Linked DNA regions of Homo sapiens. The protein of the gene in region 5 interacts with the protein of the main gene of each other region in a pairwise test. Each region holds a gene or a part of one and is shown on either strand. Other genes may lie near its edges.

Region 1 (4,490 bases), on a different chromosome or scaffold from region 5:
GGAAGCAGTTTCCAAGTCCAAAGTCAGAAGAAGGCTCCTCCCAGGCCCACACCTTCCAGGAGGCACCAGGCCGCCACCCTCCCCTGGGACACAGCACGCCTGGCTCCAGTGCTGCGTGCACACTGCCCTCTGTGCGTGCCAGAACACACCTCTTTGCACACCCACTCCACACACAGGGCTGGTGCTCCTTACCCACAATCCACCTGCCCTGTGTGCAAGTACCCACGCGTGAATATGTGCACACGCGTGGGCTGGACATACACTAGAGTACACGCACGTCCTTGCCCTCTGTATGCAGGATCCCCTGAGAACCCCAGGACTCCAGTACCCGAGGGGTCAGCTTCAGACTCCTTACAAACACGAGCTCCCACACCCAGCGTCTCTGTGCAGCACATTCCTGTCCCTGAGCACAGACGGGACCAGGGAGTCCCAGGCCACCCCCAGCTCTCAACTGACAGCATCCTTACCATGTTACCTTCTGCTCAGCACCTAGAAATGGGGACTCACTACCTTCAGAGACAGCTGCCAGGACTGTCAAGCATGGGGGGATGGGACTGTGTCTCCCCCTCACACCTAGGCAGGCTCTTGGAGCTGTCCGGCTCACTGTTACCCAGGGATGCTTCTGGAGGCAGAAATCGTCACACTAAGGAGGCTGAGGAGAGACTGGTGGGTGGCAACTCTGGGAGGCAGGGACCCTGCACTCACACAGGTCAGCTCATCTTCCCTCACTGGGCTCCCCCAGATGCCCTCATCCCTGCCTCCCCTCAGCTCCCTTGGCTAGTGCTGTAGGACCCAAGCTGGCCTACACTCTGCTCCGCTGGCCTGGGGAAGCTGTGGACCTGGGAGAAAGTGGGGTGGGGCGGGGGGCTCCCTCCGATCCCAGGAACGGGGTCCGGGCAGGGCAGGGGATGGGAGGACTTGGCACAAGGGGCCGTGACAGTCGAGTCTCAGAGCCGGACATATCCAGGTTCCCTCCCTTCCCACCAGACCTGTGTCCCTCCTCCTGGTCACTGTGCCACATGCTAAACATCAGGACCAGTGTGGCGCTTCCAAGGTTCACTGCCCTGAGCAACTCCGGCAGAGGGGGCCTCAGCGGGTGCAGTTCTCATGGCCAGAGTCCAACCACCTCTCTCTCACTGTGGGTCTGCCCCTTTCCCTGCCTTCTGCAAGAAGTGACACCTAGGTCTCCCCAGGCCCTAGCTGATGCCCCTTCGAGGCACCTGTCCAGTGGCAGCCTCTAGGCCCTGACTTCAGCCCCAGCCTGAGAAGAGAAGGGTCCTGGAGCAGAGACTGACTCTAAGCGTCTTTCTGCACCTCTGTTAATGGGACTTTATTCCCAGAAGCCTCCCCGAGGACAGAGGATACCAGGGGAATAGAACCTGCCCAGCCACACTCGTGCAGCCCCCGGCTGGCTGCAGCAGGAGGTATTTCAGCGAGACTTCAGGATGAACTTCCAGCTGGGGTCACATGATCTGCCATCCGCATCCAGTGCTTATTAGCAGTGAATGCATGGGACTGTCCTCCTGGTGGAGGGCTGGGGCCTGGGGTGCTACATTCACCCCTGGACCGCCCTAGGTGCAACAGTGTCTCTGGGTGGGCTGTGCCAGAAGGGAGGCAAGGGAGAGTGCCGGGGTTTGGATCTCCCCTCAGACCCCCCGCTGGGGCACAAAAGGAGCTTCCCTGGCCTGCAGCACCCCACCCCCACCCCAAGCTGCACAGCAAGAGCACTGCGGAGCCACGCTACATCCTGCCACCCCCTCCTCCATCCCACAGTGTCCCCGCCCCCCATCACTGCAGCACCAGAGCCCCTATTCCCCTCAGCAGAGGCCGGTACACCCCGCAGCAGGGAGACGGAGGCAGATTCTCCCAGAAGGGGTGACCCTGTTGGGGCTGGGCCTATTGTTGCCCCCTCCCCTCCAGGCCAGACTATTAGGTATCCCCACCTGGTCTGCTCCGCATCCCAGGCTGGGCAGCTGGGCCTAGCGAGGTGGCTGCAGCAGCCTGGCTGTGCCAGCCCCTCCCCCAGCGCCGCGGCTGCCTCTGCAGCAGGCGGAAGGGCGCGGGGGCTTTATCCCTCAGGGGCCGGCTGGGCACCCCGGGATGGGGAGGCAGTGCGGCCTGGACACTGGGGGGATGGATCTGCAGCCCTCCCCCCCGACAGGGGAAGGCCCCTTCCCGGGTGTCCCAGGCCAGAGGCCGTCGCGTCCCTCCCACGGCCGAGGCTCCACACCTCCCGGACCGACTCCGGGCCAGGGTCCGCCTGCTCCGGTTCTGGCCCCCGCGGGGGTGACGTTCGGGACGTCGGGGGCTCGCGCAGATCCGCGCTGGATCTCAGGCGGCCCTGGTGGGTCCTGGATTTTTGTCCCCCCCCCATTCCACACCCAAAGAAGGAGCTGCGGGGAGAAGGGCGGCAACGCGGCGGGCGGGCGTGGGCTGGGCCCGGGTCCGCCGGGCGTTGCGGGGGGCGGGGAAGGGGCCTCCCTGTCCCTGGCGTCCTGGACGGCCGTGGCCGCTCATTCCGGGGCCGCCTCCTCCTCCCGGGCGCCCACCGGGTGCCGCTGCCCCAGCGCCCCCGACGCGGCGCCCTCCGCCCCCCGGCCCGGGCCGGTGAACCCCATCCCCGGCGCCCGCCCCCGCCCCGCCGGCGCCTCCGCTCACCTCGCTCGCGCTCGCCTCGGGGGCGCTCCGGGGACCCGCGCCGCGCTCAGGGCGCCCGCTCGGCCGCGCCGTCCATGGGCCCGGCGGGGGCCCGCGCAGCCGGGGCAGGGGCCGGGGGAGCGCGCGGGCCGCGTCGCCGTCGCCGCCGTCGCCGCCGCCAACGCCGCGGGGAGCGCTCGCTCGGGCCGGGGCGCGCGCACTGCGGGCGGGCACGCGCGCTCGCGGCGCGCATCCCAGCCCCGCGGCTCGGCGGGCGCGGCCGGGAGGTTCCGGCGCGGCTCGGGCTCGGGCTCGGGCTCGGGCTCGGGCGTCCGGCGTCCGGCGGGGCGTCGTGGGGGGAGCCGGCTCGGCCGCCGCGCTCGGCCGCGAGTGACAGGCCCGGGGCGGAGGGCGGGGCCGCCGGCGGGGATGAGGTCATGCCGAGCGAAAAAAGCCCCTGACGTCACCTGCAGCCAATCAGCGCGCGCGGCTCGGGGGCAGGTGACGTCAGCGGAGCCCGGGCTCGGGGTGAAGCTGAGGCGGCTGCCGCGGGGGGGGGGCGGGGTGCAGGGTGCGGGTGGGTCGCGCCGCCGCCGCCTTCCGCCCTCACCCCGGGACCGGCTCTTAAAGGGACCACGCGGCGTCCGGGACCCCGCCTCCAGGAAGCCCTCCCGGCCCCGGGCCCCGCGTCACCCAGGCCCCCCGTCACCCGGGCCCCCGGCCGCGTCGCACAGACCCCGGACGGTCCAGCTGAGCGGCTCCGGGCGCGAAGTCCTCCCCCCGACCCGGACAGGCGCCGGCGCCGCTCCCCCCTTCTCCTGGCCTTTGTTGGCGCTGGGCCGCCGCCGGGGAGCCCTCCCCAGACCCAGGCGCGGCGTTTTACCTGCAGCGGCTGTGCTCGCCCCGCCGCGACCCCCGCAGGACGGAGCCGGATCCCCCTGCACTCGGGCGGACCTGGGACCCTCAGAGGCGAGCCGGCTGCCTCGGGTCACACATCCGCGAACTCCGGGGGCGGGCTCCCCAGGACGCCGCCGACCCCCCACGACCCCCAGCCCTCCCGCTTCCGTGGAAAGCCGCCCCGACGACCCCTGTGCGGGCTGTTGAGGGGCCGCACCCCGCCGACCGCTGTGGGAACACCTCCGCGCGTGCGGCGGGGACGCGGCGAGTCCGGGGCAGGAAGAACGCACGGGTAATTGCACCTTCGGCAGGTGTTGGGCGGGAGCAAGGGGGTCAGACTCGCGCTGCAGGGGGAGGGCGGGGGAGGCCTCGCTGTCCTGGAGGAAGGGGACAAAGACCCCTGCCCAGGAGCCTGGGAGCCTTTGAAAGTAATGATTTTTTGGCGGGGGGGGGTTGTCACGAGACACCCTAGACATTTCTAAAAGGCCCCCTCCCCGCTGCCGGGTGGAGAGGGAGCGTGGGGGGATCCGCCTTCTGCCCCCGAGCCCCCAGCCAGCCTGGGCCCCCCAGGGTCACCCTGGGGCTCTGAAGGGGGCTTCGGCCGCTGGTTGAATGAAGGGCCACAGAAAATGAAGCTGGCGCAACGACCGCAGAACCCTCAGTGGGCACCAGGACCACGGAGCTCAGGGTGCCAATGGTGATGGCTGGGGGTGGGGAGTACTGTGGGCAGCAGGGGATGCTGAGCGGGGTTTGGGGCTCCCCCTTTCCATACTCAGTCTTCCTGCCAGCCTCAGAGCTGAGTACACCGTTGGCGATTAATAAGCGCTTGCAGCTCCCTTCCCTGGCCAGCCTGAGGGGAGCGGCAGTGGCCCGTATGGGGTGGGGGTGGCGGTGGAGTGCGTCCTGGCGCAGAGCTGGCACACAGCACAAACAAACGCCTTGGCGGGAGTGGGTCT
Region 2 (4,007 bases), on a different chromosome or scaffold from region 5:
AGCCTGCTTTTATTCTCCTATCTGGCCCCACCCACATCCTGCTGATTGGTAGAGCCGAGTGGCCTGTTTTGTCAGGGCGCTGATTGGTGCGTTTACAATCCCTGAGCTAGATACAAAGGTTCTCCACGTCCCCATCAGATTAGTTAGATACAGAGTTTCCACACACAGGTTCTCCAAGGCCCCACCAGAGCAGCTAGATACAGAGTGTCAATTGGTGCATTCACAAACCTTGAGCAAAACACAGGGTGCTGATTGGTGTGTTTACAAACCTTGAGCTAGATACAGAGTGCCGATTGGTGTATTTACAATCCTTGAGCTAGACATAAAGGTTCTCCATGTCCTCACCAGCAGCTAGATACAGAGTGTTGATTGGTGCACTCACAAACCTTGAGCTAAACACAGGGTGCTGATTGGTGTATTTACAATCCCTGAGCTAGATATAAAGACTCTCCACGTCCCCACCAGACTCAGGAGCCCAGCTGGCTTCACCTAGTGGATCCCGCACCGGGGCTGCAGGTGGAGCTGCCTGCCAGTCCTGCGCTGTGCGCTCGCATTCCTCAGCCCTTGGGTGGTCGATGGGACTGGGCGCCGTGGAGCAGGGGGTGGTGCTCGTCAGGGAGGCTGGGGCCGCATGGGAGCCCATGGAGTGGGTGGGAGGCTCAGGCATGGTGGGCTGCAGGTGCCCAGCCCTGCCCCGCGGGGAGGCAGCTAAGGCTCGGTGAGAAATCGAGCGCAGCGCCGGTGGGCCAGCACTGCTGGGGGACCCAGTACACCCTCCGCAGCCACTGGCCCGGGTGCTAAGTCCCCCATTGCCCGGGGCCAGCAGGGCTGGCTGGCTGCTCCGAGTGCGGCGCCCACCAAGCCCACGCCCACCCGGAACTCCAGCTGGCCCGCAAGCGCCGCACACAGCCCCGGTTCCCGCTCGTGCCTCTCCCTCCACACCTCCCTGCAAGCTGAGGGAGTGGGCTCCAGCCTTGGCCAGCCCAGAAAGGGGCTCCCACAGTGCAGTGGGGGACTGAAGGGCTCCTCAAATGCCACCAAAGTGGGAGCCCAGGCAGGGGAGGTGCCGAGAACAAGCGAGGGCTCTGAGGACTGCCAGCACGCTGTCACCTCTCACCAGCACTTCGGGAGGCTGAGGCGGGCAAATCACCTGAGGTCGGGAGTTCGAGACCAGCCTGACCAACATGTAGAAACCCCGTCACTACTAAAAATACAAAAATTAGCAGGGTGTGGTGGCGTGTGCCTGTAATCCCAGCTACTCGGGAGGCTGAGGCAGGAGAATCGCTAGAACCCAGGAGGCAGAGGTTGCAGTGAGTCGAGATCGTGCCACTTCACCCCAGCCTGGGCAACAGAGTGAGATTCTGTCTCAAAAAAATAAAAAATAAAAATAAAAAAATAAATGGGATCGGCCTGGCACAGTGGCTCTTGCCTGTAATCCCAGCACTTTGGGAGGCCGAGGCAGGTGGATCACAAGGTCAGGAGATTGAGATCATCCAGGCTAACAGGGTGAAACCCCGTCTCTACTAAAAATACAAAAAGTTAGCCGGGCGTAGTGGCAGGCGCCTGTAGTCCCAGCTACTTGGGAGGCTGAGGCAGGAGAATGGCGTGAACCCAGGAGGCGGGGCTTGCCATGAGCCGAGATCGCGCCACTGCACTCCAGCCTGGGCGACAGAGCGAGACTCCCTCTCAAATAAATAATAAATAAATAAATAAATGGGATCACATATGTGACCTTTTGACAGTGGCTTTTCTCACTTAGCATACCTTTGAGATTCATTCATATCTTATCGGTAGTTTCTTCCTTTTTCTTGGCGTGTGATTCCCTTGAATATGATCCCATGTATGGATGGGCCACAGTCTCTATCCATTCACTTATTGAAGGACATCTTAATTGTTCCACTTTTTAGCAGTTTTGAATAAAGCATTCATCTGCATATAGGTTTGAATATAAATTTTCAGGTGAATGTAAGTTTTCAGTTCACTACTTGAGTAAACACCTAGGAGTGGAATTGCTGCGTTGTGTGGTAAGTCTGTGTTCAACTTTATAAGAAACTGCCAAAATGTTTTCAAAAGCTGCTGTACATTTTACATTCCCACCACAATGAATGACAGTTGCTCTTGCTCTGAGTCCTCACAGATATTTGTCAGGGGTGTGTGTGTGTGTGTGTGTCTGTGTGTGTGTGTGTTTAGTTTTAGCCTTCTAATAAGTACATAGTAGTTTTTCATTATAGTTTTAATTTGCATTCACCTTTTGACAGATATATTGAACATCTTTTCATATATTTACTTTCCATCCATACATTTTCTTTTTTTTTTTTTTTTTTTTTGAGACAGAGTTTCATTCTTGTCGCCCAGGCTGGAGTGCAATGGCACCATCTCGGCTCACTGCAACCTCTGCCTCCTGGGTTCAAGCAATTATCCTCCCTTAGCCTTCCCAGTAGGTAGGATTACAGGTGCGTGTCACCATGCCTGGCTAATTTTTGTATTTTTAGTAGAAATGGGGTTTCACCATGTTGGCCAGGCTGGTCTTGAACTCCTGACCTCAGGTGATCCGCCTGCCTCGGCCTCCCAAAATGCTGGGATTACAGGCGTGAGCCACCGCGCCCAGCCACCTTCCATATATTTTCTTTGGTGAAATGTCAAGATATCTTGTTAATTTTTAAAATGAGGTTATTTTCTTAGTAAGAGTTCTTTATATCCTGGATATGAGTGCTTTAGCAAGTATGTAATTTGCAAATAATTTTCTCTTAGTCTGTGCCGTGCCTTCTCTTTCTCTTAACATTGTCTTTCACAGAGCAAAAGTTCTTAATTTTGAAAAAGTCCAATTTATCAAATTTTTTTCTTAAATTGATCAGGCTTTTGGTGTTGTATCTAACTCATTGCCAAACCCAAAGTCACACAGGTTTTCTTTGGTTTTCTTCTAAAAGTTTTATAGTTTTTTATGTTTAGGTCTGTGATCCATTTTGAGTTAGTTTTGATATAAGGTGTGAGGTATGTGTTGAGATCCCTTTTGCTTATGAGTATAAAATTGTTGAGACATTATTTGTCACAAAGACTGTAGAATTGCTTTTTGTACTTTTGTGAAACAATTGAGTATATTTGTAGGGGCTTATTTTTGAGTTCTGTGTTCTGTTCCATTAACTTGTGTTTTTATCCTTTCACAAATGCCATCCTGCCTTAATTACTGTGGTTGCATAGGAAGTCTTGAAATCAAGTAATGTGAGTCCTTTTATGTTTAAACTATTTTGAATATAAATGTGCCTCTTTCGTAGGCAGCATGTAGCTGGGGTTGCTTTATATTTTCCATTTCTGAGCTTTTGCTTTATTATTTCTTCTGGTCTATCTTCCAATTCACTTATTCTCTCTTTATCTTTTCCTAATCTACTCTTAAGCCCTTCCATTGACTTCTTAACTTTACTTATTATGCATTTTATCTCTAGAAGTTATATTTCATTTTTTTCAAATCTGCTTATTCATTTTTATAGTCTTCTGATTATTTTTCGTACTTTCATTAACCTCTCATTTCTTTGAATATATTAAATATATTTATTTTATATTCTGTGCTGACAGTTCAAATATCCTAAGTCTTTTATACCACTCCTGTTTGTTTTTTTTTGGTTTTTTTTGAGATGGAGTCTTGCTCTGTCGCCCAGGCTGGAGTGCAGTAGCGCCATCTCGGCTCACTGCAAGCTCCACCTCCTGGGTTCACGCCATTCTCCTGCCTCAGCCTCCCGAGTAGCTGGGACTACAGGCACCCACCACCACGCCCGGCTAATTTTTTTTTTTTTTTTTTTAAGACAGAGTCTCACTCTGTCACCCAGGCTGGAGTCCAGTGGTACGATCTCTGCTCATTGCAACCTCCGCCTCCCGGGTTCACGCCATTCTCCTGCCTCAGCCTCCCGAGTAGCTGGGACTACAGGCGCCCACCACCATGCCCGGCTAATTTTTTTGTATTTTTAGTAGAGATGGGGTTTCACCATGTTAGCCAGGATGGTCTCGATCTCCTT
Region 3 (4,007 bases), on a different chromosome or scaffold from region 5:
AGGAGGCTGAGGCAGGAGAATTGCTTGAACCCGGGAGGCGGAGGTTACGGTGAGCCGAGATGGCACCACTGCACTCCAGCCTGGCGACAGAGCGAGACTCCGTCTCAAAAAAAAAAAAAAAAGGAATGTATACATAGATAGTTGTCTAAAGAGACTGATAGTAAAATGTTAGCCATGCTTATCTCAAGTGGTAGGATTTTGATTTTTTTTTTTTAAATATTTTAATCTGGGTTGTTTTTATTTTCTAACGTGTCATTTTTGTAATCAGAAAAAGCAAAAACTATACATTGAATCCAAAGAAGTCCGATGAAAGAGTATTTGAAGGAAAGTTCTGTGACCAAGTCATATTTTCTCTGCAGACACGTCAAGTTCTTGAGGAGCTGACTGAGTTGCCTGTGATGGTGGAACTAGCAAGTGACTTCCTGGACAGAAACACACCAGTCTTTCGAGATGATGTTTGCTTTTTCCTTAGTCAATCAGGTGTGTTAATTTTAAAGACTTAAAAGGAAGGAAAGTTATTCTTTCTAATAATTCTAGCATATCTTGGCAAAAGCTGATATTTAAAGATAAACTGGCATTGCAGATGACTTGACGAATACAGATTTATTTTAATGTTACATAATTCTTTATGAATTAGTAAAAATGAACACCTTTTGTGTTCAAAGAGCTGGATTTTCAATGACAGAGAAGGAAGAGAGATCCTGACAAGCCATATTACTTAAAGTTTTATAAATTTATTAAGTGGATGTTTTGTATTTTATTTAAAACAAGTAATATTGTTGAAAGTGTGGTCAATTTGTTTTTGCTCCTAAGAAACAGCATATGTTAAAACTGTTCTGTGTGTTATGGTTGGCCTACTTTTTACACAGGTGAGACAGCAGATACTTTGATGGGTCTTCGTTACTGTAAGGAGAGAGGAGCTTTAACTGTGGGGATCACAAACACAGTTGGCAGTTCCATATCACGGGAGACAGATTGTGGAGTTCATATTAATGCTGGTCCTGAGATTGGTGTGGCCAGTACAAAGGTAAATTCTTGACTCATTTCTCTGATGATTATTTAATCATAGTGTCAGTGAAGCAGACTAGTCTGTAGACTAGTCTGTATCTTATTTTTGTTAGCAGTTATAGAACTCACACATTTTATTTTTGTTAGCAGTTATAGAACTCACACATTTTACTAATCATTGTAATTATTGTAGGACTTTAGGGTCAGATAGATAAAAGACTTGTCATTCTCTCCCTCTTCCTGATAGAGTTTAAAAGGGACTTATGTATATAATGTAAGTCCATTTTGAAAAGGTCTCTGCTGGCTATCCTTGTCTATCGCTTACTGCCCTCCTGCTAGGCACAGTAGGATACATAACAAGTATATAACATCCCCTTCTTTTATGAAGTATAGTCTGGAATTTGAAAAGTAACAAATTAGAAACATCCACTTTAACCATTTTTGGAATTTTTATTTACCTATTTATGGTTTCTAATAAATAATGTAAAAATATACATACTACCTCTGAAAGTTTGTAAGGAGGAATACACCTTTGGTATAAAATTTGGCAACTGCCAGGCATGGTGGCTCACGCCTGTAATCCCAGCACTTTGGGAGGCTGAGGCGGGCGGATCATTTGAGCTCAGGAGTTCAAGACCAGCCTGGCCAACATGGTGAATCCCGTCTCTACTAAAAATACAAAAATTAGCCAGGTGTGGTAGCACGTGCCTGTAATCCCAGCATACCCGGGAGGCTGAGGCAAGAGAATCACTTGAACCTGGGAGGTGGAGGTTGCAGTGAAGCGAGATTGTGCCACTGCACTCCAGTCTGGGTGACAGAGCAAGAGTCCATCTAAAAAAAAAAAAAAAAAAAAAAATTTAAAATTTGGCAATTAAAAAAAATTTTTTAATGAGTATTGTATGACAATATCTTTCTCTTTAGATATTGCTCTGGGGAGGTTTAAAGGTACTGTCTTGTGTTTTGAAGGCCTGGTAAGACTACTTTGCTCTTTGGAATTGGAATATGCATAAATTTAGGTGGCTAATAAAAATAGGAAATCTTAGAAAGTTGTATAAATACAAGAGATGTTATCCCTCCACAAGTGTTTTTTTGGGGTTTTAGGTTTGTTTGGTTGTTATTTAGAGACAGGGTCTTGTTTTGTCACCCAGGCTGGGGCTGGAGTGCAGTGACAGGAATCATAGCTCCCTGCAGCCTCAGACTCATGGGCTCAAGTGATCTCTGCCTCAGCTTCCTGAGTGGCTGGGACTGCAGATGCACCAGGCTAGTTTTTTTTTTTTTTTTAAGATGGGGTCTCACTATGTTGTCCAATGTGTTACTTTTTATGATTTCACATTTTTGTTTTCTCAATATTTTTCTACTTAAGTTTGATATTTCTTGCTGATTATCTAATAAGATGTTGGGATATTGGTGGATTTGAGTTTAATTAAAGGATTGTGAAAGACAATGTTAATGTGTACATAACTGCATTTGAATTCTTTTCCCTCAAAGATTCTCATAGAGAATTTTTTGTAGAAAGTTTGTGATTCTTATATAAAAATTCTTCTTTTCTTTTTCTTTTTCTTTTTTTTTTTTTTTTTGGAGACAGACTCTCACTCTGTTGGCCAGGCTGGAGTGCAGTGGCGTGATCTCAGCTCACTGCAACCCCCGCCTCCTGGGTTCAAGCGATTCTCCTGCCTCAGCCTCCCAGGTAGCTGGGATTACAGGCACCTGCCACCACGCCTGGCTAATTTTTGTATTTTTGATAGCAATGGGGTTTCACCATGTTGGCCAGGCTTGTCTTGAACTCCTGACCTCAAGTGATCTGCCTGCCTCAACCTCCCAAAGTGCTGGAATTACAGGCATGAGCCACACTGTACCTGGCCCCCCACCTTTTTTTTTTTTTTTGGAGACAGGGTCTCTCCTCTTTATCATCCAGAGTACATAGAGTGCAGTGGTGCTCATGGCTTACTGCAGCCTGGACCTTCCCAGGCTCAGGTGATCCTCCCACCTTAGCCTCCTGAGTAGCTGGGACTACAGGTACAGGCCACTACCCATGCCTGGCTAATTTTTGTATTTTTTTGTAGAGACGGAGTTTTACCATGTTGCCTAGGCCAGTCTCGAACTCTTGGGCTCAAACGATCTGCCTGCTTTGGCCTCCCAAAGTGCTGGGGTTACAGGCATAAAAACTCTTGAGTGAGATTTTTATTTCTTGGGTATTTCGATATTGCTAACACTATAATTTACAGAGTGCTGAAACTTGAATTTTCTCCATATGGTAATTAAAACGTGTTACATGTTTGTGCTTGGGTTTCCATCCTGTGGCTGAATAAATGACCAGCCACCTTTAGTAGCACTTAAGGATTTGATTGGGGGATTGGAATCCCAGAGGCTCTTTATTTATAACAGATTGTGAAACAAGGGCTACAACGTGGTGTATGTGGGATATGGGATTGTTTGGATGGATGCCATTGACTTAATCTTTTCATAAAATGTTTCTGGAATTGTGAGCTGCCAAGGGAAATATATATTTTACATTTCTCATTCCTTTGTTTATGAGAACTTTAATTTGCCTCAACATTTTATGATGATGATTTTCAAATATACAGCAGAGTTTTAAAAATTTTACATACAGGCTGGGTGCAGTGGCTCACAACTGTTATCCTGGCACTTTGGGAGGCTGAATTGGGAGGATCACTTGAGGCTAAGAGTTCAAGACCAGCCGAGGCATCAGAGTGAGACCTTATCTCTATAAAAAATACAAAAATTAGCGGGGCATGGTGGTGCGTGCGTGTAGTCCCAGCTACTCAGGAGGCTGAGGCACGAGGATCCCTTGAGCCTGAGAGTTTGAGGCTGCAGTGAGCCATGATCACACCACTACACTCTAGCTTGGATGATAGAGTGAGACCCTGTCTTAAAAAAAAAAATAAAAATTTTACATTAGCATTGGTATACCCACCATCTAGCTTCTACCATAGCATATTCACCAATTTTAAGTGTACAGTTTTAGTAAATTCATTTGG
Region 4 (3,523 bases), on a different chromosome or scaffold from region 5:
CGTCCCCTCTGCGTCCCTCACCCCGTCCCCTGTGCGGCCCTCACCCCGTCCCCTGTGCGGCCCTCACCCCGTCCCCTCTGCGGCCCTCACCCCGTCCCCTCTGCGGCCCTCACCCCGTCCCCTCTGCGGCCCTCACCCCGTCCCCTCTGCGGCCCTCACCCCGTCCGCTGTGCGGCCGAGTCCTCACCCTGTCCCCTGTGCGGCCGGGCCCCACCTGCACGGCTCTCTGGCCTTGGTTGCAGCCTCCCCACGTGGCTTCAGGCCGTTGTTTTTAGATTAGGATTCTGCCCACCTGCCGCCTTGTGTTGTGAGGCTCCAGGCATGTAGCTCTGCTGACACGTGTGACATTGGATCCCAGAGCTGCCCCGTGGGGCAGTCCTGAAAAAACCACGCAGGGCCCGGGGCAGCGCCACGCCCCTCACGGAGTGCACCATGCATGGGCCCTGCAGAGGACTGGTGGGACCGGCCCGGCATTTCCGGGCCTGAGGTGGGCGTGGGGGTTCCTGAGACCCCGGCAGGAGCTGCCTAAGGATGCGGGTTGGCCTGCGCCCCCCCGCCCCCCGCAGTGTCTGCCCGCACCTGAACCCCTGCTCACCCCTTCTCTCTCCTTGCAGCCTCACCTGGCCGTGGGAAGCAACGACTACTACATCTCCGTGTACTCGGTGGAGAAGCGTGTCAGATAGCGGCGTGACCCGGGCCCACCAGGCCACGGCCGCCTGCTGTACATAGTGAAGCTGTCACTCGCCGGGGCACGGGGCGTCGGCTGCTGCGGCCCCGCAGTGTGAACGTTGGCTGCTGCCTTAGCTGCTGATGACGGCAGGAGGGCCCTGCTACTCGCTTTTGTCTGTCTTCGCTGTCGTGTCTGGAATGTCAGGGAAGGGGAGGGCTCGGGTTGACGGTGGCTTCCCACTGAGCACCAGCATCCAGGTGCACCCCCGCGGCCACGGCGCCTCTGTCCCTCTCCTGTTCTGTGTTTCTCTGAGACGCTGAAAGGGGAAACACCTCACTTTATTTCCATGTAATCAGAGCATTAGCTGCAGAAAAACCCCCCGACAGAGCCCTGGCGGAGAGGCAGGCGCTGGGGCTCCTACGGGTCCCTGGGGCAGCTGTCCCCATCAGGCCAAGAGCGAGCGAGAGGCGCTGCCCCAGCCAGGCCCACCACCTCTCACAGTCAGTGCACGCAAGCAGGGACATTTCCTAGCCAGCTGGGGGACACTGGAAATTCGGGAAACCAAGAGAGAGGAAGAAGGAGACGCCCCTCCAACTGGCGGGTGTGAAGGAAGCCGCCCAGGGGTCCGGGCTGTCCTTGGCCGCTGGCAGCATCACTGAGCAGGAAGCGCACAGCCCACCCTCCCCGCACCTCCAGGTCTCTGGACTCCAGTTTTGGCCCCTCTCACACAGAGCTGTCAGCAGGGGCCGCTGTGGCGGTGCACAGGGGAGGCAGGTCCTTGGCGAGGTAGCCCCTGCCTTAATCCACGGGGCTCCTTTCCCTCCGAAGGGCTGCTCTTCCCCACAGGCGCGGGGACAGCAGCCCGACCTGTGGTCTCCATGCCTGTGCCCTCACACAGGTGTAGCACACGCATGTGCAGATGGCACCACGGCCGGCACCTGGGGGCACACACATGCAGGCGGCGTGGTCTCCCTGCTCTGTCCCCACACGTTCCTCACATACAGGCAAGAGGCACTGCCGGGTCCCGGACGGCTCCGGGTGACACCAGCCCCGTCTCCAGCCTTGAGCCGCCCATGCTGATGCGACCTCGGCTGACAGCTGGGCCTGTGGTGCAGACAGGAGCTGTGTGGACAGTCCCGCCCAGGAGGGGCCGCAGGGCGTGTATGAGCAGTTTTGCAAACAGAACACAACCACAATGATGGTATTTTGAAAAGTGTTCTTTCCGTGTTCGTCGGGAATCAGGATTATTGAGAGGTGAAGGAGCCAGGTGGCTTCATTCTGGCGGTGAGAGGCCCACGACCACGGGAGTGAGAGCTGGTGTGGCGAGGCCCGGCTCTCCTGCGGTGTGGCTGGTGGCCTGCCGTGGCCAAGAGCATCTTCTGGGTGGATGGAACCCTGCCTGGTCACATTTGGCCAGAGACACACCTGGCCCTCAGGGGGCTGAGCTGGAGACTGAGCTGGGGCTGGCCGGGACGTGACAAGGCAGGACAGAGGCGGCCCCTCCGCTGCTCCTTTTTGGAATGCGAGCTCCCACCAGAAGAAGGTTCCGGCACGAATCCCATCCCCACGTCTGGGCCGAGAAAGCAGCCCGGGTCCGGAAGGTGTAGAGAGTCCCGGCCTCACTCAGCTCACAGGGCGTGCCAGGCGGCAACACCAGAATCTTCCAGAAGCCCAGCTCCACCCGCACACGCAGCTTCCCATCCAGTCCTTCAACTCAATTCTTACCCAACACGCGTTTCTGTTTGTTTTGAGACAAAATCACCACCTGTCAAAAGGCAGGTGGCTCCAGAGGGGTCAAGACCCCCCCCCGCCCCCGCTCCACCCTGGAGCCCACCCCCATGGGCACCGCGTGCCGCCTGCACGTGGGCTGTCTTCACAGGTCTGATGTGAAAATTCAATCACGACGTTAACCGGCTCGAGAGAGCGCCGGCCTAGAGGCTCATTATCTATTTATTTTACCAAACGCGAATTGAGACGGACTTTGACAAAACACGAAATGGTAATGTGAAGCTAAGAGCAGAGAGTGACCAACAGTAAACAACACGCGCAGACTCCGCGGCTGGCGGCTGTGTCTTTAAGGAAACTGCCCACCCCACCTCAGGGGGGCATCGGTCAGAGCAGAGCTCTGGGGGGTGGGGGGACGTTGCCCGGGTCCCCCCTGCTGTCCCCAGGGCCACCAGCAGCTCTGCGTCCCGGGTGCTCTCCAGGCAGGCACTGTGGCCACAGGGGGCCTGGCACGTCGAGTGTGCAAAGGTCTCGGTCCTTTTCTCCCAGGCAGTGCCCCCAGCCCTGTGGCGCAGACCCCACATCAGGGAGCGTACTGTGTGGCAAGAGCCATCTTGTGACGTAGGCCAGACACGTGTCTTTCTCTTTAAAATGACGGTTATCCTCTCACGGTTAGAGGCCCCATTCAAGTCTGCATTGAAATCTGGGCCACGTCAGAGTTCCTGGGGGAGAAGCCGCTTCCCCGCTCCTCCCCACTTCTGGAGGCCCCCACTCTCCTTGGCTCGTGGCCCCTTCCTCCAGTTCAGGGCCTCTGACCCACGCCCACCGTCACCACTTCTCATGCAGGCCAGAAGTGTTTCCAGGCCTAGGGGCCGTACCCACCTCGGGCTGTGTGGGTCCTTAGCCCTAATCACATCTGCACATCCCTCTGGCCAACTCTTTTTGGGTTTGCTTTTTGTTTTGAGATGGAATCGCACGCTGTCACCCAGGCTGGAGTGCAGTGGCACGATCTTGGCTCACCTCAACCTCCACCTCCTGGGTTCAAGCGATTCTCCTGTCTCAGCCTCTCAAGTAACTGGGATTACAGGTCTGTACCACCACACCCAGCTAATTTTTATATTTTTGGTG
Region 5 (4,691 bases):
ACGTGTTAGGAGACCTCCAATATTTGCTACTTGCCAATCCTAATTTAGTTACAAGAATTGGTAGGCAATCCTACTTAATTTTGGCAAAAGCCCCGTCATCTAAATGGCAGAATAACTCAGAGCATGTCTTTGAAGATGCTGGGCGTCTACCACCACCTTATGTCCCCACCCTACCCAACAAAAATAAGTAAAAAGAATATGGTGTATTCTACAAATTTGTGGCATGCTCAAAGTTTATGATCACATAAAGGCAAGAGGATACTTCATGAATAATACATTTCAATGCAAATAAACAGATGGTTCACTTCTACTAGCTATGAGCCTGTTTTTGTATACACTGAGTTAATCTACTCAGGCTGTAGGTCCCAGCAATGTTCTAGAGTCTGGTCTTTCCCTTTCCTGCAGCTTCGGGTCCTTGGACCTTTCCTGTTTCCTATTACTTGGAGTGTCTGTCAGTTGAGCACCAGTTGTTCTGGTGTTTCATTTGATTCTACTTGTAGCATAATCATTTATACGAGCTATTGGGAGGTTCCAAACCCTACCTAGATTTGTGTAGGTGATGTATCAAATGAGCAATATACCGTTCATCTGAAAATAGTAGCACACAGCCATATATAGGATATCATTTTCTAAGGACTGTTTCTTCACATTGAGCAGAGCAGGCATAAATGGTGGTTATTTAGTCTAAGTCTTTTATTTTTTTATACCTGATTTTCAACATAACACGCAATGTGGATGTCGAGTAGTGTTAAGAATGGTGCTGCTCCTGACAAGTGTATGTTAACTGTTTACATTTTCTATCTGTAGAATTATTTCTCTATTACTGAACTTTTCCTAAGTAAAATGTCTTTGAAGTCTCGTTATTTCTGAAATACGTTGTCTGTAATAGACCCAGGCACCTTTTAAATTATCTCTGGAACAAGAGGGATTTCATGTAATGAACTAGGAAATGCATACTCACATAAGCAACAAGGTTCTAGGCAGAAAGCCCCTTGGAATTTGTGACCAACAGGAGCAAGAACAGGTGCGGCTCAACATGCAATGTCTGAAAATTTGCTTGGCATTTTATTCATATATTTAGTGCAAAATTATTTTTGAGTGAGATATTTTACATCACTGTTAATGTGCAATATTTAAGATTAAAATACATTAGCTTTTTTATATACTTTGAAGTAGCAAGTTTGTTTTCGATGGCTTAGAGTCATGATTTCCAGCTTCCCAGCCTTTTTATCAGTCCCTTTTCTAATACAACAAGGTGCATTAATTTGATTAGGCAAATTAGAGTTCTAAGACACTTCTTGAATTGTAGACAGAAAATATTGGATTCACAATTTCAGCAGAAATTTGAGAATGAGTGTGTTTATATTAATTTCACAATTAGCTGTATTTTCTGTAGCATAGATTATGTCACTGTTGCACTTTCACAGCAGACATGCTTTCAGAAGGTTCTCATATTTTATGTTTGATTGCTGATAAGCCATCTCTATTGATACAGATTTTGGTTAAGTAAGGAAAACCAGGTGTGTGTCTGTATCATTTATTGTAAATGCCAGCTGCCACTTGCCAACCATCATGTTCAGTTCAATTCAAAGAAAACAAACTCTCATTACTTAGTGTAAACTAAAATACTTAACAAATTATATCCTAAAAACAAGGTCTCTTTGTTAAATGTTGCATGCCCTAGGTTTTAAATTACTACATCCAAATACAGTTTTCGTCTTAAATTTGTTAAGCTAAATATATGTTGGTTCTTTTTATTTTGGAATCCTTTAAGCATCTTAAACATTTTTTTTTTGAAGAGAAGTTACAAATAACATTTCTATCAGGTAGTACTTGTATGAAACCACCTTTCTTATTCTATAATTTTGATTTTTCAATTTTATATACTTAATATACTCACTGTCTTACTATCAGAAAGTTATTTTGACCAAGATTTTTATTATCTTCATAGATTCAGAAAGAGATGCTAATTCTGTACCAATGTCTTCCTGGTTACTATTCTCTTCCCTCTAATATATACTGGCCATTTGTAAAACCATTGTGTTGTTGGGATCACTTAGTTATACTATACGCAGATAGAGCATCTCAACTCTGTCATAGTGTTTGCTGAACAGTTTTCAGTGTCATGCACCTTTGGCTGCTAATTGTTCCTGACGTGCACTCTTCCGAGTTGGTAAAGGCACAGTGTGTTCATGCCAGACTTCTAAGAGAAACACCAGCCTCTTAAATCAGAAGCCTACACACAACCCCCTTAACAATCCAAAGAAGCTTGATGGTGTGCAAAGAAGCATCCTGCCAGCCTTGTCATTGTTCTGTTCTATGCTAATCCTGCTGTGTTGTCTAAAAGATGGAGGGAAGAGGACATCAGTGTCTGATAGTGAAATCATCAGCAGGAAAGTGAAGCTCTTTCCTTGGTTACAGATAAGACTTGGTTTACACTATTGGCCAGTATCTGCTAAACATATGAAGACTTAACTATTCAGTGTTGCCTAGGCATTCGCCTGCACAACATTTTGAGGTTAGAACATAGAATATTTTCAGAAATACTGTTGTAGTTTGTGAGTGTTGTTCATTAGTTACACATTAGCTATAGAGTGGATGCATGAAGCCCCATGACACCAGTAAACTTCTCTTACCAGTAGGTAAACCAAACACCATTCTGTCATTAGCAGCCCTCTTAAATGTTGCCTCTCCGTATCCTGTTGCATTTTTGTGTGCATTGTGTTTCTACTGATCTCTCTTAGGTTTTTACGGAATCAAAGGAAACTAATTTTTCCTTAATAGCAAGAAAGATGAAGAGGTAAAGGGCATTGAAGCAGAAATGTATAGTTTGGGGTACGATTAGAAAACTCGTAAGGAAAACAGAAGTCCTAATTTCAAACTGACTGCTCTTCGTTAAGTGCTCTTAAGGAGAGTCTAGTAACAGTAACACTTTCTGGCCATTTCTAGTTTAGATTCTCTTCGTTACTGAAACTTTTGAGAAATATTACCTGTGGATTAATTTTGCACAATGTTCTATTCTCATAATGACTTACAAATTAAACTAGGTTTTTATTGAACTACCTCACACTAATTTTCTATGCTTTCCCAAGTAAGCTGTTGCCCTGTTAGATCTTTACTGAGTGAATTATAAATGTGTGTTAAATACTTTCTAGCCAATGTTGACACAATACCAGTAAGTATGTAAAGTATATACCTTACATCAGTAAGAGACACGTGTAAAATCTTTGACTGTATGTCTTGCAAAATTGTGCTCGTTGACATTATTACTGTTTTTGTAAGTAGAAACCTGCTCGTGATATCGGTCCATTTACATTTTACAAAAGGAGTAAATCTTAGTAAAAATTTTACGAAGAAATAAATTACTTTTGTAGGCCCAATATTTGGTATATTTTTGAGAAGCTGTTAATCTTTTAGCTGAATAATGAAGTTAGACTGAATTACGTGTCTCCCTGGACTGTGACATCTATTTTCTCATTACAGTTTATCCTGGTCAGCAGGGTGTCACACCTGGAAACCTGAGTATGATAGCTGACATTTGCTTTTCTCCCTCTGCGATGTCATTCCTCCTCCATTCCTCTCCTTCCCTGTGTTCCGTTCCCTCTCCTTTCCTCTAGACAAAACAAAATGGGGCACTTTTTAGGGAATGCTGAGATCATTATTGTGGTTTTTCATCATTCATGCCCTAGTCATTAAACATGCACCACTGGAATGTAAACAATGTTATCTAGTATGTCAATTGGTTATAATATTTTAAATAAAAAAGAAAAAAGTGGTATGAAAATTATGAAATTAAGAGTTTTTTCATTGAAAACAAAATCTGTTTGTGGTAAAGTTTTTCTTGGCAATTTTAGGATTGTCCGTGGATTGGGATAAAAGGGGTCTTGCTAGGGCCGGTTTCTTAGATTTGGATTTTGTACAGATTGTAAAGAGCCTAAATGATCACGCTGATTATCTGGTTGATCTGGTCTTGGATTTCTGGTGTTTGAAATTGCTGGATAAACTTTATCTAAAAAAGGAACTTTGCTTCAATGCCCTTAACCTAGTTCTTGGTAGACATATGAGAGAACAGCCATCGTGACCACTTGGCAAAAATAAGTACTTAAAATTGGGGTCTGTTTCAAAACAAGCAAGAGGTTTTAGCTTTGACTGTTTCCAACTTTTGCCATGCTTATTTCCTCTTTGCCTACGTTGGGTCTGCTGCTGTGTGGGAATACAGGGTCCCTGCAGTACCTTCCCAGCCACTGTAATGACGCCACTCCGTCTTGCACAGTTCCTGCTCCAAATGACCTTTGTACCGTGCTGTCTGCCCTCACCTGAACTCACACTGCCCTCCTCTGAGGAGCGGAGAGGAAGGGGCTGATCTTTTAGCTGCCCGCTGCTGCTGGATCAGCTGCGTGGCAGCTGAGCTGTTTCATCACCGTCATAGAGAGGCCTCCCAGGAGAAACGGTAGCAGAAGCAAGTGTCAGAATGTTGGGAATAAACTTGTTTTTACTTTTTTTCATTTTCACCAGTTGTAAAGTGGAATAATTCATCCTCGTTAATTTAGGTACTTTTTTTTTTTCTTTTTCAGTATTGTTCCTGAAAAGGTCTATTAACTTGATCTAAGTGAAGATTGATTTGTAGTGATTTTGTGGTTTAAGAAAAATTTTTTTAGCTGTTAATGGTTATATACCAGTATTTCTTTGGA
Region 6 (3,969 bases), on a different chromosome or scaffold from region 5:
TAAACCCCAGGAGACTTTTTCAGAATGCAATGTTTCTAAATGTACTGTTACTGGCAGTTTACTCTCCAGCATATAAGGTTGCATTTTAACTTTTAGATTATGAACTGTGCAAACTTTACCCAAAACTATCTTGCATGATTCCCTCCTAAATATATTCCTTGATTAAGTAAATCTGGCAAATCACTGTTTGAGCTAGTTACATAAAATTTGTTATCAAGAGAAGGCTTTTCTACAAGTTTCCAGATTAACATAAAGAAAAGAGGGAATCACAGGGCATTTAAGTGCACCTTCCCATTACTTTCCTTAAATCACCTCATAGTTAGGCTGGGCGCGGTGGCTCACGCCTGTAATCCCAGCACTTTGGGAGGCCGAGACGGTGGATCACGAGGTCAGGGGACTGAGATCATCCTGGCTAACACGATGAAACCTCATCTCTACTAAAAATACAAATAATTAGCCAGGCATGGTGGCACGCGCCTGTAGTCCCAGCTACTCGGGAGGCAGAGACAGGAGAATCGTTTGCACCCGGGAGGCGGAGGTTGTTGCAGTGAGCCGAGATCGCGCCAATGCACTCCAGCCTGGGCTACAGAGTGAGACTCCATCTCAAAAAAAAACAAAAAAAATCACCTCATAGTTTATGTCTGACTTACTCCAAACCTCAGTTATCTGATTTGTAGTCTGTGTCAGGAAAGTTTTCTTCATATCTATTCTGTCTCCCTCCTCTTTGATTTTAAATTTTTTTCTTTTACCCAGTAGGACAAAAAAGAGCAGTTGGTCATCATCCCCAATATTCTTAGTCTTCAGTATGCTTCAGGCCTCTCAATGAACACTTAAGTCTCAATTCTTCAGACAAAATTGCTTAAGCTCTTCTCCTCAGTCCTATTTTAATGACTTTATATTTAAGAATATAGAATTATATTTTCTTTTATATTCAAATTCATTACTCCAGTTAAGTAATAGTTTGATAGTTTGATAGAATCGAGAGTTAAGATGTTTCTATTTGAAAGTGGATTCAACCATCAGACCACCAGCAAATCGGCACTTAATTTTTGTGTTATCTAACATTTTCTATTGTGGAATTTTATGATTTTATATTCTCATTAGTTATAACTAAAAAGCCATGCACACAGAATTGTATATCATTTTGCCATTAAAATTTTTTAACATATTGCAGCAAGCTTAGTTTTATGATTGAGCCACAACCTTTTACATATTTTTTGTATGAAATATTAAACACTAAATGCAAGATTAACTTTCAAAAGCAAACCCTACATTAATCAGGTATTATCTATGGACATTTTTGTAGACCACTTTTGAAATACTTATTATTTTGCAACATAGACTGGACTATACAACTTTCATTTAACTTTTAGGTGACTGATTTAAGTTGAGTGTGCATATAGAGAAAAACCTAGAAATTTATCTCATGGCAGATACATTTGAAAGTACTTCAGAAGAATTTATGCTGTATATTAAAACTAGGCTCAAAATAAATCTATCGTATCTTTAAAAGTCCAATTCTGTTATTACTGTGATGTTTGTAGTGTTACTATTAAACATTGTGAACATACACATTTTTAAAACAACTTGAAACCCATTTTAAAATCTGGGTAAGAGAGAAGGAATCTTCAGAACAAAATCACATCATTAGGGTGTCCAGTTTATGATTGAATTTTTAAGCAAATTACTGTATTTGAAACTACAACTTGATTTGGTTTTCAGTTTTAAAAGGCAACATGTGGGTTTTATCCATTTTATTTATACCTTTAGATTTCAGAAACATCTTCATGTTTTAGATGCATTCTACAGACATCATGTTACTTAAAAACTCAGGGCCCCTTTCATCCCTTTGTACACTGAAAAAGTTCAATTGTTAGCAAGTAAGCAATTAGATCCAGTTGAATATTTAAAGTGTTTGTTGCACAGTTCATTTAATGTTTCATCTTATTTGACTTTTTCACATAGATATAATATCAGATTTCATTAATTATAAAAAGTTGCCCAGTTCTGTAATTACTGAACAGAGGGAATGACTCAACTAATTGGCTACATGTTGCAACAAATTTAGGCCTTTAGAGTTGAAGCACTGACTTAAAACGACTTACATTTCTGTTCTTTGGTCAAATGACCATACATGATATGGGACAAATTGTTTCATTTTGTTTGTTTTTTAATAAGGGAACTTGGTAAAGTAGTTCCTGTCAGATAGGATTTTCTCAAGAGACAATTTAACGTTATAAAGCCTTCTAAAAGTGAACTAAATATTTTATAACTTTAGTAATAGCTTGGATGGTTTTGAGAAAATAACCTGTATTTATCACATTGTCAAACAGAATTTTTCTTTGAATCAGACAAGTTCAAGCTCTAAATTGATGTGCTATATACTTAAAATCCTAGGAAGTTATCTGTAACCAGTCTCTTGTCTCAGGCTCTTCACCTTGTTACCAATCCTCGTAAGTATGTAAAGGAAACATATTTTTAAAGAAGCTTAACAGTAAGAAAAAATTACTAAAAGATGCAATTCAAAGATAGGTCCCAGTTTAACACTGAATTGCTTGACTTCTGTGGCTTTTCTTTTTCTGGCCACATTTATTTATTTAAGCAATTTTTGTATGCCTTGTTATTTCATTTCCATAGAGATTATATTGTATCAGTGTTTATGTAAGCTGGAATCATCCTCAGTTTTTTGCTGATAATTTTTCAAATAAAGATACATGGATAATTGTAAAATACACTAACTCTTAGGGTGTTGTAGTAGCTGAAACATGGAGATGCGTAGCTGTCATGCTTTTTCTGAATGGACAGGAGAAACATAAGCTACGGAGTATTCACTTCTGAGGATGCTTTTCCGGAAAAAGAAAGGCTAGAAAATACTCGCACTTCCTCAGAACCCTCTTTCTTGTTAACGGGTATCTTTTGTTGGTGTGTTTTGCTCTTACATTACAGATAGACTATCATATATGACTTTATGAATAATTTCAGTTATTTTGCTTTTGTATAAGCTGTCTGAAGCCTTGCTATGCTGTATAAGTTGTGTTTGATGGATCAGTGTGAGTATAAAATAAAGCAAATCACTTTTCTTTTGTATTATCTATGGATGCCACTATGAAAGCTGACATTAAGCCACTAAAGAGTTTTCTATGAATAAGTGTAAGTAAATGCTTTGATATATATAAACCTAAATAAAAAGATTGTATTGATACAGAGACATTGGAGAAGGAGATTTTAAGGCAGTTCTTTAGGTTTAAAAAGGCTTGCTGTAAAATGGTGCGTTATTCCGTTTATTAAAGATCATATTAATGACAATAGTAATTGTGTTTTTTTATTTTAAGAGGTCACCAGAAATTGTTAGTATGATAATTAGGGAGTTTGCACTAGAATAGTAAATGTTCTATCTAATATGACTTTCATAACTCAGTATGATACATCAAAAAATAAAAAATAAAAAAAAATAAATAGGCCGGGCGTGGTGGCTCACGCCTGTAATCCCAGCACTTTGGGAGGCCGAGGTGGGTGGATCACGAGGTCAGGAGATCGAGACCATCCTGGCTAGCACGGTGAAACCCCGTCTCTACTAAAAATACAAAAAATTAGCCGGGCGCGGTGGCGGGCGCCTGTAGTCCCAGCTACTCGGGAGGCTGAGGCAGGAGAATGGCGTGAACCCGGGAGGCGGAGCTTGCAGTGAGCCGAGATCGCGCCACTGCACTCCAGCCTGGGCGACAGAGCGAGACTACGTCTCAAAAAAAAAAAAAACTAAATTTAGTATAATAGTTGCTATTTTCTGACCATGTATTATATGCCAGGCACTGTGTTAGTTATTTTACATACATTGTTGATAATTCTCACAACAATCCTACATAATATGTATTACTATCCCCCTTTTATAAATGAAGAAACTGAAAGAGAAATTAAATACTCTGCCCAGTCACAGAACTGGCAAGTGAGATTGTAACGCATTTTACGTTTTGC
Region 7 (4,007 bases), on a different chromosome or scaffold from region 5:
AATTCCTAGGTTCTACTCTGGAGATGCTGATTCACTAGGTCTGAGACCCAGGGATCTGGGGTTTTTTTAAAAAAAATAAGAATCCTGAGTGATTTCACTGTGAAAGCTTGACAGATCATAAATGGGATAATAGTTGTCTGGGGTATAGCCTTTCCTAGCATTCAAGTATTGCTGAAGATAGAAGTTTATAAGAAGTCTTCATCAGCTCCCACAAATTTTCTTTTCGGTCTGATGCTTCTGAATCACTGCTCCTTGCCTTCTTCCTCTTTATCTCCTTGCCTTACTTCACCATTTTTACCTCACCTCTGCCTGCAGAAGTTACACTCCTGGGCAGATTACTAGGAAAGCCAACCAGAAGAATGGCTAGAAAGGAGAGGTTGTATATGTCAGGTTAATTGAAAGAAACAGCGTCATCCACTTGGCCATTCTAAAGCTTGAGTGTACGTAATGTTAGACATCAACCGTGTGGTTCTTTCTAGGACATTTAACCTCAAAGAATGAACTAGTGAGTTCTCGGCACCAGTACTTTAGTCTGACACACTATTGTAATACATAGCTAATAAAGTTAGTATGGTACTCTCTGCCCTAAAGTTGCATCTTCATTTCCCAACCTTGAAGGAGCAGCCCTATTCATTCAACAGATTGTAAGAACCTGGGCTAGGCCCCAGGTGCGCAAACATAAGGCTTGGTTCTTTTTGAGAAATGATGACAAACATAACTGCATGTGTTCTTTTTAGATGTCAAGTCTGCTTCAAGCTTTGTCTGCTTATTTTTCTAATAAAAAGGTTTTAGAAAATCTTTTAGCTGTTCCTTTGAATCTAACAATATTAATATAACTAGAGCTTTAATAGAAATTTCGTAAGGGCTAAACAAGAATAAATTAGTCACAGTGTTTTATGAATTGCATGAATTCCCATCATGAAGAGAAATTTGATTAGGCTGTGGGAAGCCAAAAATGTTTCTAAATTATTAGCACCTAGTTCCTCAATCCATTTGCCTATAAATTTGGTATAAAAACATTGCTAGTGAAATTTTAAAAATTATTTTTCTATAAAGGCAGGTCCCTGTTACTCTCTTATATTAAATAGAAATATCACAAGATGGAGGAAGGGAATAGAATTCTGAACCTTCTGTGATGTGAGCAGCCATATTGGTGGAATACAGGCCTTACTTAGAGTGGGATATTCATTGCTTGGCAATAAAGGTTAATTGAACTTTGGGTGAGAGGCTAAACTGGAACCTGTGTCATTCATTATTTTTATGGGACAAATTTATTCTGTGTTTTTGCCTTCAAGTGAACCTTTTGTACAAGTATTAAGAACTGCCTTCAGTTCCCATTTCCAACCTAAAGTGGTTGATTGGTTTGCCTTCCACAGAATATTTTTATTTTCGCCTTTTTTTTTTTTTTTTTTTGGTCTCGCTTTGTTGCTCAGCTGGAGTGCAGTGGCACAATCTCAGCTGACTACAGCCTCAAACTTCTGGGCTCAAGCAATCCTCCTGCTTCAGCCTCCCAAGTAGCTGGGACCACAGGTGCGCCTCACAATGCCCAGCTAATTTTTTAGTTTTTGTAGAGATGGGGTCTTGCCATGTTGCCCTGGCTGGTCTTGAATTCCTGGGGTCAAGCAATTCTTCTGCCTCAGCCTCCCAAAGTGCTGGGATTACAGGCATGAGCCACTGTGTCCAGCCTTATTTTTGCTTTCTTTGATTTCTGAGTTACTCAGAAACTATTTCAGGGCAGTTTAAGAAGGCTGTACTTTTTAGTGTAGGTATATGGAACATCTTTTTTTGTTTTGTACTATTTCTTTTGGACATATGTTTGTGAGCTAATTAAACTTTTCTGTTTCACTTGGTCACTGAGGTTCATAGGTTTTTCTCTTAAAAGACAGAATGGGCTTTGGTTTGGGTCACTGCCACTTGTTTGAATATTTAGGTAGTCTCCACAGAAAGTCTTTTATGTGGAACCAAAAAATTACCGTCTTTTATATACAGTAGCTTTCAGAATGCTTTCACATCATTTGACTTTTTTAGTAACGGGCTTGTGAAGCAAGCAGAGCAGGTGGTAGAGACCTGCTTTTTAGGTGGAGAAACTAAGGTTCAGAAAGAGTTCATGACTTGGCCTAAATTCGGAGCTGAAACCAGGTGTTTCTGATGCTGGTTCTGCTTCTCTTTTGCCATACTGCTTTTCATGTCATGTTTTCTGGCATTTTGGTAATGACGTTATGCTTGAACACTTGCTGAATATTAACCTCTTTTGGTTTGGGATATTAGCATTTAGATATTTACAAATTAACATATTTGGATTTTTTTCTTTTTAAATCATCCAGTTCTTCAGTTTCCCTGCTGTAGTTGCTCCATTCAAATGTTCCGTCCTCCCACTGAGCCAAAACCAGGAGTTCATGCCATTTGTCAAGGAATTATGTAAGCAAATTCAATTGGGTAAACTCCATGGGAACACCATCAAGGAGACTGAATTTTAGGAAATGTATCATTTATTTCAATAAAAATATAGACTGAATAAAGAATATAAATGATTTTATAAAGAGTACATGATTTTAGCCTGTACTCTTATTTCTAAGCGAGAGGATATGCTTGCTCAGATGTTTTATTCTGGCATTTGAGTGAGGCAAGGTAGGACCCAAGAGTCAGATTTAAAAATTATTTACTTCTCATACTGACCTTGGTGCCAAGTTCATCGAGGGAACCTGAGTGGAGTGTAGCAACCATAATGGATCTACAGCCACAGAATCCACAGCCCTGAAAGGAATCCTGGTGGTCATCTGGCACATCCACTTATTTCAGAGCTGGGAAATGGGGAGAGTCCATTGACCTGCTTAGAGCCATAAAAATAGAGGTGGTGGAGTCAGGACTCACCTTCTGGCCTTGGCTCTTGGTCCCATATTTGTTCCCCCTATAGCTGTATCAGATGGAGGTATGAGTGAAGATTTGGATTCCCGCAAGGGATTTATTAAACTTTAGGGATATTTCTTTCTCTTGCAACTCAACTTGTTGCTTTCTTGTCTTGGTCCCATTTATAAGTCTCCTGAGCTTGTAAGACAGTAGTTAGATAACACTGGGCTTAACTCCATTGTTTTATTTTTAATTTACTTTGTTTATTTTGGATAGCGGAAGCCCTGACCAGGCATGGAGTATCTCACAAAGTAGACGATTCCTCTGGGTCAATCGGAAGGCGCTATGCCAGGACTGATGAGATTGGCGTGGCTTTTGGTGTCACCATTGACTTTGACACAGTGAACAAGACCCCCCACACTGCAACTCTGAGGGACCGTGACTCAATGCGGCAGATAAGAGCAGAGGTATCTGGCCTTCTCTTTGGCATTTTTAGCCTTAGAAATGTGTACTGCTTCTTACTGATTTGTGTTGGATTTTGATGTGTTTATGCTCCCTTTCCTTTTTTTTTCTTTTTAATTTTAATGAACGGCTTGTATCAGACAGAGCCCAGATTCTCAAGTCCCCCGGTTTAATTATGAAAATATCCATTAGCACTTCTCTAATATTTTATAAACATTTGTGTTGCTCCAGGCTTATTCTCCAGCAGTTTGCTTTTATACTTGTTTGTTTATTGGGCAAGAGAAATATGATCCTAAGAATTTGTTGCCATAGTTTTATTGGTAGGCTTTGGAGGGTTAGACATTTTAATGTTTTATTTTTACAGACGCGTATACATGTGTATGTATAAGCTTTTCCGTGTTCATATATTCAAAACAGTGAATCATGTTTCAGTAGTTTTGGTCAATAGGAAGGCAGTAATGGAGATGGTAGAAGCACAGAAGGAGAAGGATGAGTGGTAAGGGAAAGGAAAGAGTAGCTGCTTTAATTGACATCTGCCTGCCTAATTTATCACCTTTGAGCACATACATCAAGTGCCTGTTCTGTGCTTAGCTTGATACAGAAGTAATAGGGAAAACAGAAGCAAAAGACTGCTTTTTTTTCTGAAGGAGTTTATAGTCTAATCCAGAAGTCGTGAATTTCTAGCTTGACTTTTTAGA

What was found.
Region 1: the proteins of MAPK8 (region 5) and DUSP8 interact in binary tests that used the Homo sapiens proteins (3 or more experiments, as listed by UniProt).
Region 2: the proteins of MAPK8 (region 5) and ZNF605 interact in a two-hybrid assay, tested with the Homo sapiens proteins (one large-scale study listed by BioGRID).
Region 3: the proteins of MAPK8 (region 5) and GFPT1 interact in a two-hybrid assay, tested with the Homo sapiens proteins (one large-scale study listed by BioGRID and IntAct).
Region 4: the proteins of MAPK8 (region 5) and RPTOR interact in binary tests that used the Homo sapiens proteins (3 or more experiments, as listed by UniProt).
Region 6: the proteins of MAPK8 (region 5) and BMPR2 interact in a two-hybrid assay, tested with the Homo sapiens proteins (one large-scale study listed by BioGRID and IntAct).
Region 7: the proteins of MAPK8 (region 5) and GARS1 interact in a two-hybrid assay, tested with the Homo sapiens proteins (one large-scale study listed by BioGRID and IntAct).

The regions. Positions count from the first base shown.
Region 1 is NC_000011.10:1,569,243-1,573,732, forward strand, and holds the start of DUSP8 (dual specificity protein phosphatase 8), read right to left. Parts: upstream 3,030-4,490; 5' UTR 2,659-3,029; intron 1,711-2,658; exon of another isoform or gene 1-1,710. UniProt on the Homo sapiens protein: Has phosphatase activity with synthetic phosphatase substrates and negatively regulates mitogen-activated protein kinase activity, presumably by catalysing their dephosphorylation.
Region 2 is NC_000012.12:132,935,680-132,939,686, reverse strand, and holds part of ZNF605 (zinc finger protein 605), read left to right. Parts: intron 1-4,007.
Region 3 is NC_000002.12:69,334,918-69,338,924, reverse strand, and holds part of GFPT1 (glutamine--fructose-6-phosphate aminotransferase [isomerizing] 1), read left to right. Parts: intron 1-359; coding exon 360-480; intron 481-869; coding exon 870-1,027; intron 1,028-4,007.
Region 4 is NC_000017.11:80,963,648-80,967,170, forward strand, and holds the end of RPTOR (regulatory-associated protein of mTOR), read left to right. Parts: intron 1-614; coding exon 615-683; 3' UTR 684-2,721; downstream 2,722-3,523. UniProt on the Homo sapiens protein: Component of the mechanistic target of rapamycin complex 1 (mTORC1), an evolutionarily conserved central nutrient sensor that stimulates anabolic reactions and macromolecule biosynthesis to promote cellular biomass generation and growth.
Region 5 is NC_000010.11:48,435,569-48,440,259, forward strand, and holds the end of MAPK8 (mitogen-activated protein kinase 8), read left to right. Parts: 3' UTR 1-3,792; downstream 3,793-4,691. UniProt on the Homo sapiens protein: Serine/threonine-protein kinase involved in various processes such as cell proliferation, differentiation, migration, transformation and programmed cell death.
Region 6 is NC_000002.12:202,564,444-202,568,412, forward strand, and holds the end of BMPR2 (bone morphogenetic protein receptor type-2 precursor), read left to right. Parts: 3' UTR 1-3,306; downstream 3,307-3,969. UniProt on the Homo sapiens protein: On ligand binding, forms a receptor complex consisting of two type II and two type I transmembrane serine/threonine kinases.
Region 7 is NC_000007.14:30,629,124-30,633,130, forward strand, and holds part of GARS1 (glycine--tRNA ligase isoform 1 precursor), read left to right. Parts: intron 1-2,324; coding exon 2,325-2,418; intron 2,419-3,123; coding exon 3,124-3,314; intron 3,315-4,007. UniProt on the Homo sapiens protein: Catalyzes the ATP-dependent ligation of glycine to the 3'-end of its cognate tRNA, via the formation of an aminoacyl-adenylate intermediate (Gly-AMP).